Regions from separate parts of the Homo sapiens genome. Here region 1 is linked to region 2. Evidence: fine-mapped expression QTL. A gene starts in region 2. The other region holds a variant in brackets. All regions are shown on one strand. Distances are between the middles of the regions.

Region 1 (5,365 bases), 23 kb after region 2:
TCTCACTGACCTCCCAGCTGAAGGCGGGGAAGGGCCTGACCATCGTGGGCTCTGTCCTTGAGGGCACCTTTCTGGAAAATCATCCACAGGCCCAGCGGGCAGAAGAGGTGAGCAGAGGCCCTGGTTGGGCTTGGGAAAAGGTCAGGACACTTAGGAAGACAGTCTCTATCCTTTTGTACTTTCCTTCCTCATCACCTTCAGGATCAAAGGAAGTGCAGGCATTTCTTTTCTTTTCCTTAGAGGAAGAGCCTAAGAGCCTAGACAGTGAGTTCTTTAGAATTCAACTCACAGCATGAAAGACCATCAGAGGCAGAAGGGCCCATTTTATGGATAAGGAAACTGAGGCTTAGACAAGTCAGGTCATATGTCTAAGGACAGAAAATGAAGATTCAAATTAGGACTCCTTGAACTCCTACTCTAGACTCCTTCCTGCCAAAGTATAAATCTTTCAAGGTGATTTCCCAGCTGTGGACTCTTGATCCCTACAGTCTGGGGTTGACAAGGTGAGTATCCACATTTGATACAGGAAGAAACTGAGACCCAGAGAGGGAAAGCTGCTTGCTGAAAGTCGGAAAGCTGCTTGCTGAAAGTCAGAAAGCTGGTGGGAAGCAACATCAGGATTTGAACTCAGGCCCCTGCTCTGTGTCACCTGCTCTTGGTTCCACCCACTAGTCCATGCTTACAGGGCAGCCTACAGAACCAATGTGGGCTGTGGTGGCCAGTGTCTGCCTTAAGCACACAAAGAGGTGATTGGATCCCAAGGGTAGTAGAGGAAGTAGGTTCTGTCTGAGGGTCAGGCCTTTCTCCCATCAGGGCTGTGGCTAGCAGTGGAGAGAGAAAAAGAGGCCCGAAGGAGCAGAGGTGAGATGGGGAGGGGCACCCCGATGGCTTGCGACAGTCGCTGCTTCTGCCTCACTGGGCTGTTCACACTGATCTGTCAGGGCCCAGAGCTGGAGGCCTTGACTGGTCAGTTCCATTCAACACGCGGTGGCTGAGAATGTGCAGTGCACCAGGCACTGGGCGAGGCACAGGGGAGATGGAGATGTTCAAGACCAAGTCCCAGCCCTCGAGGTGCTCACAGGCTGGTGGGGAAGGCAGAGCATACACAGAAGGCTCTCAGACCCACCGGATGTCGATAAATGCTGTTAGAGTTAATAACATCAGGGTCGTACAATGTGTTGAGTGTTTTCAATTCCTCAGGCAGGATACTAACTAAGCCCTATGTGCATGATGACATGTGGTTCTCCCTATTCCTAAACAAGGTAGCTTGTCCTGACCCCTTGGGTGGTTAGGTGACTCACCCAAGGTCACACAGCCAGGAGGTGGCAGAGATAGGAGTTGAACTTCTATCTGTTTGACTTAGGGGTGGTGGTTAAGAGTGTGGGGGTTGGAGTCAGACTTCCCTGACTTGAATCCTCACAGTAACATTAGCTGTGTGTCCTTAAACAAGTCTTCCTTTCTCCAAGCCTCAGTTTCCCCATCTATAAAATGGGAGTAATAAGACTATTTCCCTCATAGTACAGTTTAAATGGGAGCCCTTAAAATACTTATTATGCTACTTAGAAAGATTGTTGAAACAAATTGTCTGGCTGTGCAGAGAAGCCCAGTTTAATTCTGGTCTGGGTGGGGGTGGTATCTGAAGACGGCGACATTTGAGCTGGGCCAGACAGGGTGTCATGTACAACTTGGCAGGGGCTTGTGTCAGGGTGATGGTGGAGAGCATGTCGGGCAGGGGGGCTGTATGAGCAGTGGGAGGGTGGCAGAAAGTGTGGTCAGATCATGAAGAGCCTTGATTGATCAAGAAGGAATGGGGCACAGAGATGATGGGGAGCCATGTGCCATTCTGGAGCCAGAGACTGACGTGATCAGAGCTGAGCTTCAGGAAGATTGGGATGAAAGGAGGGGAGAGATGGGAGGGAAGGAGGCTACAATGGGCCCAGCCAGGGCCAGGGAGGCCTGAGGCTGGTCCTTGTCTTTTCCCCCTCCCCTAGTCTATCAGGCGCCTGATGGAGGCAGAGAAGGTGAAGGGCTTCTGCCAGGTGGTGATCTCCTCCAACTTGCGTGATGGCGTGTCCCATCTGATCCAGTCCGGGGGCCTCGGGGGGCTGCAGCACAACACTGTGCTTGTTGGCTGGCCCCGCAACTGGCGCCAGAAGGAAGATCATCAGACGTGGAGGAACTTCATTGGTAACGCTATTGGGGGCTGGGGACAGAAGAGGGGTGGGGCTGGGGGCTGTAGAGGGGTGGAACTGGATTTCCGCTCCTTTGGGCCTGAGGGGTTTCCCAAGCACTGCGTGCCAAGTGTGGATTCAGCATATGCAGGTGACAGCAGTCAAGGCTGGCCACGTGCCAGCCACTGTGCTGGGCGCTGGGGACTCCGCTGTGAACGAGACAGTCTTGGCTCCTGCAGCGCTCACAGGCCCTGGGAGGAACACAGTGCAGGGCAGTGGGAAGAGCTACAGCTCTGAAGTCACAGAGGCTAGGCCCACATCTCAGCTCTGGTCCTTCCTAGCTGTGTGACTGTGCACAC[G/A]TGACTCACTCCCTCTGAGATCAGATTTCTTGGTAATCGTAGGTAATAGTATATATAATAACTAACGTTTCTAGAATGAGTTCTGTGTGCCAGCAAGTTAAGGCTTTCTCTGATTCTCTCATCAGTCCTAGGAGGGCTACGCATTGTTATCTCCATCTTTTTTGATGTGAAACTGAGGCACAGAGAGATTAAGAAGTTTGCTCCAGCTGGGTTCGGTGGCTCACGCCTGTAATCCCAGCACTTTGGGAAGCCAAGGCAGGTGGATCGCTTGCGCTCAGGAGTTTGAGCTGGGCAACCTGGCAAACTACAGAGTAAATGAAAAAGAAGTTTGCTCCAAGTCACAAAGTGGGGAGCCAGGTTTTGAACCAGCCCGGAGGCTACACTGTTAGCTCCAAGCTATTCTGTCTCCTTTATAGGTAGATCATGGTTACAAGGTGTTGGGAGGATTCAGTGTGGTCATACATGATGGGCTCTTAGTAATCAGAAAGGGCAGGTGGTGTTATTGCCATTTGACAGGTGGGGAAACTGAGGCCTAGAGAGGTTGATAGACGTTCCTAGATCTAAACAATAAATATATGATGGGGCCCAAGTAGATGCTGGTTTTCTGACCACTCAGCCCATGGCCAAGGCCAGTTGGAGTGGGGTGGAGTGCTGGCTGCCAGGAGCCCTTGTGGCTGCTGCTGGGTGTTGGGAGAACCAGAGTCACTGTTTCCCCCTCTGGCCCTCTCCTTGGCCTCCCTCAGAGCTGGTCCGGGAAACCACAGCTGGCCACTTAGCCCTGCTGGTCACCAAGAACGTTTCCATGTTTCCTGGGAACCCTGAGCGCTTCTCTGAGGGCAGCATCGACGTTTGGTGGATTGTGCACGATGGAGGCATGCTCATGCTGCTGCCCTTCCTGCTGCGGCACCACAAGGTGAGTTGTGTGCGTGAGTGTATGCACGTGTGAGTGTGTGTATGCATGTATGCATTTGTGTGCATATGTGCACAACTGCAGGTCAGACTCAGGGGCTCTGGCCAGGGTCAGCTTCCGTGTCCTTCCTCCCCTGTAAACTCCTGGGAAAGGGATCTGCTGACCTACTTCATTCTGAGATGTTAGGAACTGATGGTTTCTCCTCTTGCAGGTGCACTGCTGTAAGGAGAGCAATGCTTAGCCCAAGCCAGTGATGCTTTCTTTAATGGGGGACCCTCAGACCTAAGCAGGGAAGGTTTTGTAGAGAGTGGCCCCAAAGACAGAGGATTTGGGGTCTGCATGTATGTGTGAGGAGTGGGTGGGAAGAGGGGAAGGGTGAGCGGACAGGGCCTGGCCCTGGATCTCCTCATCACATCTGGGCTGGACCTTTCTGAATCCCCTTCATCGCCTGCAGGTCTGGCGGAAGTGCAAGATGCGTATCTTCACTGTGGCCCAGATGGATGACAATAGCATCCAGATGAAGAAGGATCTGACCACATTTCTGTATCATTTACGCATCACTGCGGAGGTCGAGGTGGTGGAGATGGTGAGTCCCCAGGAGACACCGCTGGGGTTCCACCTGGCCCTCTTTCCTCTTGGCCCCAGCACCAAGTAGGGCAACTCTAACACCCATCAGCTTATGATGCTGGATCCTTTCCCCCTCATCCATCTCTTAGCCTCTCACATATTCAGCCATCCCTCCCTTCTCTATAAAAGTAGCCATGTCTAGTGCTTATTATATGCCAGGCACTGTTCTATGCACTTTATATGTACATAAATTCCAACAACGACCAATGAGATAGATACAATTATCAGCATTTCCATGTTACAGATTAGGAATATGAAGTGCAGAGAAGTACAGTCACGTATTCATTGCTTAACAACAGGGATATGTTCTGAGAAATGTGTTGTGAGGTGATTTTGTTGTGTGAACATCATAGAGTGTATTTATGCACACCTAGCTGGTACAGCCTACTACACACAAAGGCTTATTGCTCTTATGCTACAGACTTATACAGCATGTTACTCTACTGAGTACTGTAGGCAATGGCAACACAGTGGGAAGTATTTGTGTGTCTAAACATATCTAAACATAGAAAAAATACAGCAAAAATACAGTAATCTTAAGGGAACACCATTTTATGTGCAGTCTGCCATTGACGCACATACAATGGTGTTATTTGGCATATGACTGTAATTTGCCCAATAACACAGAGTACCTGGTGGAGGCAGGATTCAAACCCAGGCAGGCTGGCTCTAGAGCGTGTGCCCCTGGTGATTATCCTGTAGAGCATCTTGTCCAACCATCCTCTCAATTCATGTGTCCATCCACCCATCCCTCTGTGTTTTCATTAATCTACCCATGTATTCATTGAAGTATTCATTCACTCACTCTCCCATTCATTCTTGCATGTATTCATTCATCGCTTTGTTCTTTTTCTTCTTTCCCTTCTCCATTCACCCAGGTGATTAATTAATCCACTCATTCATTAGTTCATCCATTCATATGCCTGGTCCTGTGCTGGGCTGAGGAGGGAATGAGCTGCCTGCCTTGCAAGAGCATTGCCCTCTCTGCTACGTCCTTGCCTCCTACAACCCTTGACAAAATTAATGATTGGGTAGGGAAGCCCTAGGCTGCCAGAAGGACGGGGGCCTTCCTTCCTTCCCTTGGCCTTTCACCTGGGCTCAGACCTCATGCTTTCCTCCGTGTTCCTCTCCCCACCCCCCAACCCCAACCTCTGTCTGCCCACAGCATGAGAGCGACATCTCAGCTTACACCTATGAGAAGACGTTGGTGATGGAGCAGCGTTCCCAGATCCTCAAACAGATGCATTTAACCAAGAATGAGCGGGAGCGGGAGGTGAGGTTGCCCTGGCTGGCCCCTG
Region 2 (5,365 bases):
AGAACCACTATCTCCTGAATCTCAGATGGCTCTTGAGATGGGAACTCTAGTGAAGGTGGACAGATGGGTTCCCCAGGGAAAGAGGAATCACTCCTGCCTTCACCCGTACTCCCTAGAATCTAGGTTTCCCCATGCATGGGCTTAGTCTCTGAGTGGCCAAAGCTGGACCACAAATGAAGGAAAATAACCCCAGGGGAACATGCCAGACCTAGGATTACTGAAAAACCTTAGCATCTCCTTCATTCTACAGCACTTCTCTGACAAACATGCTACACGTGTTTTACTGTTATGCATCTCTGCAGAGTAGTAGAACACAGTGCTGCTGCTGCTGCTAGTGCTGTGTGTGTGTAGAGTGGAGTGGCATGCTTAAAAATTTTTGAACACTGGCTTCTTTTAACCTCTGTCACCAATTCAAACTCATCTCACCCTTTTGGTGGTTTTTTTCTCTGGGAGAGCCAAGAATACCAGTGCCCACAACTTGTCTGAATAGCTAACTCTCCACCCTGAAAGGTCCTTTGGGTATCCAAAAAACCAAGTGGCAGCGATACTTGATTGGTAGGTCCCTCAGAGGCACTTTTGAGTCAGCTGCTGAAAACTCCACGGTTGACCCAATCTGAAGCCACTGACAAATTGTATTAATACAAGTAAAGCTGAGCCCTGGATCCTGTCCATGGTCCTGAAAAAAGTCCTGTCCTATACCCCGGTCTCCAGGGATATGAATGGCTCTTTAGGATTTTTGCAGGTTTTCTGGAGGCTTCCCCTTCAGTTGCAAGCCAAGAGTCCATTCTAGCCCTGCACCTCTGAAGCCTGAGCACAAGAAAAGGAATAAAGCACATCTCAGATGTAGTGCCTGTTTGTTTGTTTGTTTGTTTGTTTGTTTTTCAGGAGCTAATAATCAGAGGCTGCTGAGGGGCATGGATATGACTGCATCCTTGTCTCTTCTATGGAGGCAAGACGACTTTTATAAGTTCTATCAATGAAGAGAGTCCTAAACTGGAGTAAAGCAAACTGGATGCTAGACCAAATTCTGCCATCCACTGGCATTATGTCCACAGGCAGTCATTTTCCCTCTATGGGCCTTAGTTTTTTCATCTGTGAAATGAAAGCTGTGTGTAAGATACAATGACTGATCTTTTCCCAACCGAAGAACTTTTCTGGAACTTAGAGAGCCAGGGAGAGAGCTAGTACCAGTGTGAAGATTGTTTACCCCGATCTGCTCCCACCCTCAGATGTTTAGATCTTCTAGAGACTCAAAGCTTTCAAACCTCTGATGCCACTTCCTGAGATGTCTGCACCACTGGCTCAAACCTGGACTCTAGGGGCTCTGAGGGGTCCCAGGATGATCAAGCTTCTGGGGGATTGGCCTAAGGGAAGAGGGGAGGAGGACAGAGAGCATGTCGGCTCTGGAAGCCTCAGAAAGCAATCCTGGATTAGGGGATTAGACACTTCTGCCCCAGGAGAAAATCTGGTCTCAAACCGACAGGCGGCCTCATTCCGCCCTCCCCCACTCTGTCCCTGGCCAGCCTCAGGACCGGCCTGTCCTCCCTAGAGGCTGCACCATCCCTGATGGAAAGTCAGTGCTCCCTGGAAACTCACTGCTGCCTCTTCTGCTCCTCCTCACCAGGTCTTATCTCTAGATCAGTCCGCAGTCAGAAGGTCCCTGGCTGTGGGCTCCAGGGACTTGTCTTGGGGGTGGGACGCTGGGACTCTTGTCAGTCTAAGCACAATGAGAGAGTTCCTTGGAACTTCTCAGGCGCTACCCCACCCATTTTAAGACAGATTGGGTCAGTCAGCCCAGTGACCTGAACGCCCCTGGGGGTAGCACATTGCTTAATTATGGGCCCTGGGCTCTACATGCCTCCAGCTCCAATCTCTTGAGCAGTGGTATGAAAGAGGGTCTGGTTCTCCTCCCCCACTTCAGGGCTGGCCTCTCCAGTCTTGCAGAGAGGCTTCCCAAGGGCCCCATGTTCCATGGCGCACCTCCACGGCCACTTCAGTGCCCTTTATCTTCCCCCTGGGGGTTACCCCAGACCCCCAGTCAAGCAGCCGCTGCGGGGCCGCCTCCCCGCGGCCGCGACCTAGTTCCCTGCCGTTATTTTTAGGGCGCGGGATGGCACCTGCCCACGTGCCGGGCCCCGCCCGGAGAGTGGGTGGGGGGAGCTGCGTCTGCTCAAGGGAGGCGAGGCCCTGTCCCCCGAAGCACCCCCTTCATCCCACCCACGCAATCCCCCAGTTTTTGTGCAAGGGGGCCACTAGTCGGGCTCTGCCCGCCCCTCATCTTCTCTTCTCTCTCCCTCCCGCTCTCCCCCCAAAACCCCGCCAGTGGCTCACGCCTCCTGCATACGGGATGAGGTGAGCAGCGCCGCTGCTGAGAGGGGGCGCGCGCGGGTGTGAGCGTGTGTCCGTGTGCGAGTGTGTGTGCGCCGGGCGGGCGGGCACTGCAGCTTCTTCCTCCGTGGAGCGGAGAGCGAGACAGAGCTACAGCGAACGAGAGAGCGGCGAAGGCGGGTAGAGGGGCGCGGGCGAGGCGGCGCAGCCATCCCCGGACCAGGGGCCGCGCCGCCACCATGCTAAACAACCTGACGGACTGCGAGGACGGCGATGGGGGAGCCAACCCGGGTAAGCTGTGGTCCGGGGGCGGCGGGGGAGGGGGCAGCGAGGAGAGGAGGCAGCTCTGGGGTTAGAGGCGGAGCGGGGGCCACCTCCTTCAGAGAGGAGGCTGGGACTGACCCGGGCGGTGGGCGCCAGTTGCAGCCTGGAGCTCAGCTCCATTGGAATGCTCCGGGCGCTGTCCAAGGTGCTGGAATGCGCCGCGCCCGGGGGCAGAGCTGCGGGCCGGGGGATTATCGCTGCCCACGGCTTCGGGCTGACTTGGGTTAGCTAAACCGAGGAGGCGGTGGGAAGGGGATAGAAGACCTAGAATGGGCTGATGTGGAGCTCGACGGCGGGAGGAGGGCTCCTTTCCCCGACAGGGGACCCCGGCGTCCTGGCGCAGAGCAGGCACCCGTGGAGCCGGGGGGCGCAGTCTGCTGCAGTCCCTCGTTCTAAGACTTCCATCTGGAAGATGGGGGAAGAGGTGGCTGTGTGTGTGTGTGTGTGTGTGTGTGTGTGTGCGCGCGCGTGCGTATGTGTGTGTGTGCGTGTGTGTGTGTGTGTGTGTGTGTAGGGGGTTTGGAGCCATATGACAGCCCCCCGTCCGGGCTGTGGTGTCTCCTTAAGACACCCAGATTGTCCCCTTGGTGCAATCTGGGACCCCTCCCCCAAGGCTTCCCAAGGTCCGACCTCAGACTGAAGCGTACTTCCTCCATAGATTTTCAGCTCTACTTTGCAGAATCTCTCTCTCGCTTTCCCGTGGGTTCCTATTCAGGACGGGAAGCAAGATCACCCTCCTTTCTTCCCTCTTTCCCCCTCCTCTCAGTTCCCTGGGGCGGTCCAGGGCGGGGCGGGGGGGAGTCTTTTTAGTTAGCTCTGCTAGCTTCCCCAGTGAGGCCTCAGAAATGGGGTCCCAGTGGCTGATTCCTCAGCGCCGCGACGCGGACACTGCGGACGCGCTGCGGTGGGTGCGGAGACTCGCAAGGAGCCGAGGGGCTTGGGACAAGTCCTTTCGCTGCTCCCGCTCTCCCCCGCCCTCCTCCGCGGCTTCCTTGCTCCGAGGTCTTGGGGCCAGCCACCCCCTCAGGCTCCCAGGCCCCCCGCCGCCCCCGAGCGGTCTCAGCCATCCATCACGGCTGTCAGCCACCCCCACCCCCCACTCTCCAGCGGCGCTGCGTCCCCTGCGCACTAGCGCGCCTCCCGCGCCTGCTGTCTGCGCTCAGCGCCTTCAAACGTTCCCCTGGGCACTGCTTGACCCTATGAGCCTAGACTCCCGCAGATCCCTCTGGCGGATGGCGCCTAGGGCTGAAAGAGCAGGGTCTTCTAGGGATTGGCAACCTTGACTCTGAGGTCCTCCGGATCCTGGATCTCAGGGCCAAGTGGCCGCTTGGAAAGGCTGGGGACACCAGGGTCCCTGATCCTTTGTCTGACTCCCCCCCACCCCCCGCCGCTTCCCGCAACTCCTCATTCCTCCTGGGGGCTGAGTGGTATACAGGTGCCAGAACTCCTAGCTGGCCCTCTCATCCACCTCCCCAGTGACCCTGGGATCACCTCATCCAGCATCCGCCCCCTCCCCCGCGGGCTTCTGGCCGGAGGGGGAGGGGGTTTGGCAAAGTTGAGTCTGCGGCAGCGCCAGGCATCCCGACGCGGATCTTTCCATCCGGGATCCCCTTCAGATGCCTCCACTCTGAGAGGGGGACTCAGATGGAGAGCATCTCTCTGTTCCCTCAGACACCAGGTATGGTCCCATTTCCCAGCACCCGCTTTCTCTGCCAAGGTTTCACCAGGCCTTGGGGTTTCCACAGGGGCTCAGGAGGCCTAGAAAAGAGGCATCAGTGTGTGTGAGGCAAGAGTTGAACTAGGAACTCGCTTCAGTTCTATCCCCTCTCCGTTAGTTTCTAGACACTGAGTGCAGCGGACCCATCTGGAGACCTTCTTTCTATACATAGGGTCCAGGACCTGGAACTCAAATGGCCAGAACCTGGGTCATGTGCTGTGGGTCCCAGAGAGAGAAGTCCCCCCTCCTCCAAGCGGTGCTTGGAGATGGTAGTAGGAGGTGCTAAGGACCTTCTGGGCTTGAGAGAGGACCATCAGGCCAAGAGCCCCTGACATCTCTGATTCTAGATTCTTGGGGATGTACGGGAAGGAACTGGTTGCTGACCTCGGGCAGGTGGGGATGACCCGAGCAAGAGGGCACTTCTGGACTAAAGAAGAGCCCAGGGATGTGTCCCGGTCTTCTTTCTCCTTGGGGTCTGACGCCCCGTCTCCCTCTCGGACCTGGCCTAGGGATTCCCCCAGGCCCAGCCCCAGGCCCCGGGGAGGCTTCTTAGCCTGCGCCGCTCGCCTGTTTCCTCCCCGGGAGCTCTGGCCGCCGCAGCTTAATTGAAAGCCGATTCGGGTTGAGAGCTCCCAGGGGGCGGGGGCGGGGAGGGCTCAGCCTCAGTCTGGCCCTGCCTCTCGCGCGCGCGCCGCTCGGCGCTCCCGCCATCACCCTTACTCCTTGGCTCCGGGGAATCAGGGCGAGTTTCCCCTTAGCTGTTCTGGTCCTTTGAGAACTCGGAAGCTCATTCCCCATCCCCCTCAACCAGTGCGCCTGGCGTTCAGGGAGGGGACGAAATCAGCCCTGGCTGACAAGTCCCGGGAGCCTGGCGTCCCGCCCAGGCAGCTACTGGAAAGGCGGGACCCAGAACTAGCCTACCTAGCCGCCCTCTCCCCTGCCCTCATCTCCTGGCCCGGATCCGGCCTGGAGTCTGGCTCCGCGCTGCGCGCCGCG

Alleles and levels. Positions count from the first base shown, and alleles are read on the strand shown. Sizes are in standard deviations (SD) of each study's normalised expression.
As copies of G replace A in region 1, the expression in hippocampus of the gene that starts at base 2,438 in region 2 goes down (small effect, 0.18 SD a copy in GTEx).

The links. PIP is the estimated chance that this variant, and not a neighbour inherited with it, causes the effect.
Region 1: its variant is the best candidate, but not a certain one, in a credible set for the expression of SLC12A5 in hippocampus (GTEx, PIP 0.62).

Annotation. Positions count from the first base shown.
Region 1 is chr20:46,049,684-46,055,048 of GRCh38, forward strand. SLC12A5 (solute carrier family 12 member 5) reads left to right here. Exons shown (of 26, transcript NM_020708.5): 17 at 1-107; 18 at 1,992-2,187; 19 at 3,274-3,443; 20 at 3,895-4,026; 21 at 5,233-5,340. Among named protein-coding and RNA genes, the nearest start is that of SLC12A5, 23 kb to the left of the region's middle. The variant G/A (reference allele first, on the strand shown) is at 2,531.
Region 2 is chr20:46,026,778-46,032,142 of GRCh38, forward strand. It overlaps SLC12A5 (solute carrier family 12 member 5), which reads left to right and starts at 2,438. Exons shown (of 26, transcript NM_020708.5): 1 at 2,438-2,619. The coding sequence starts at 2,568.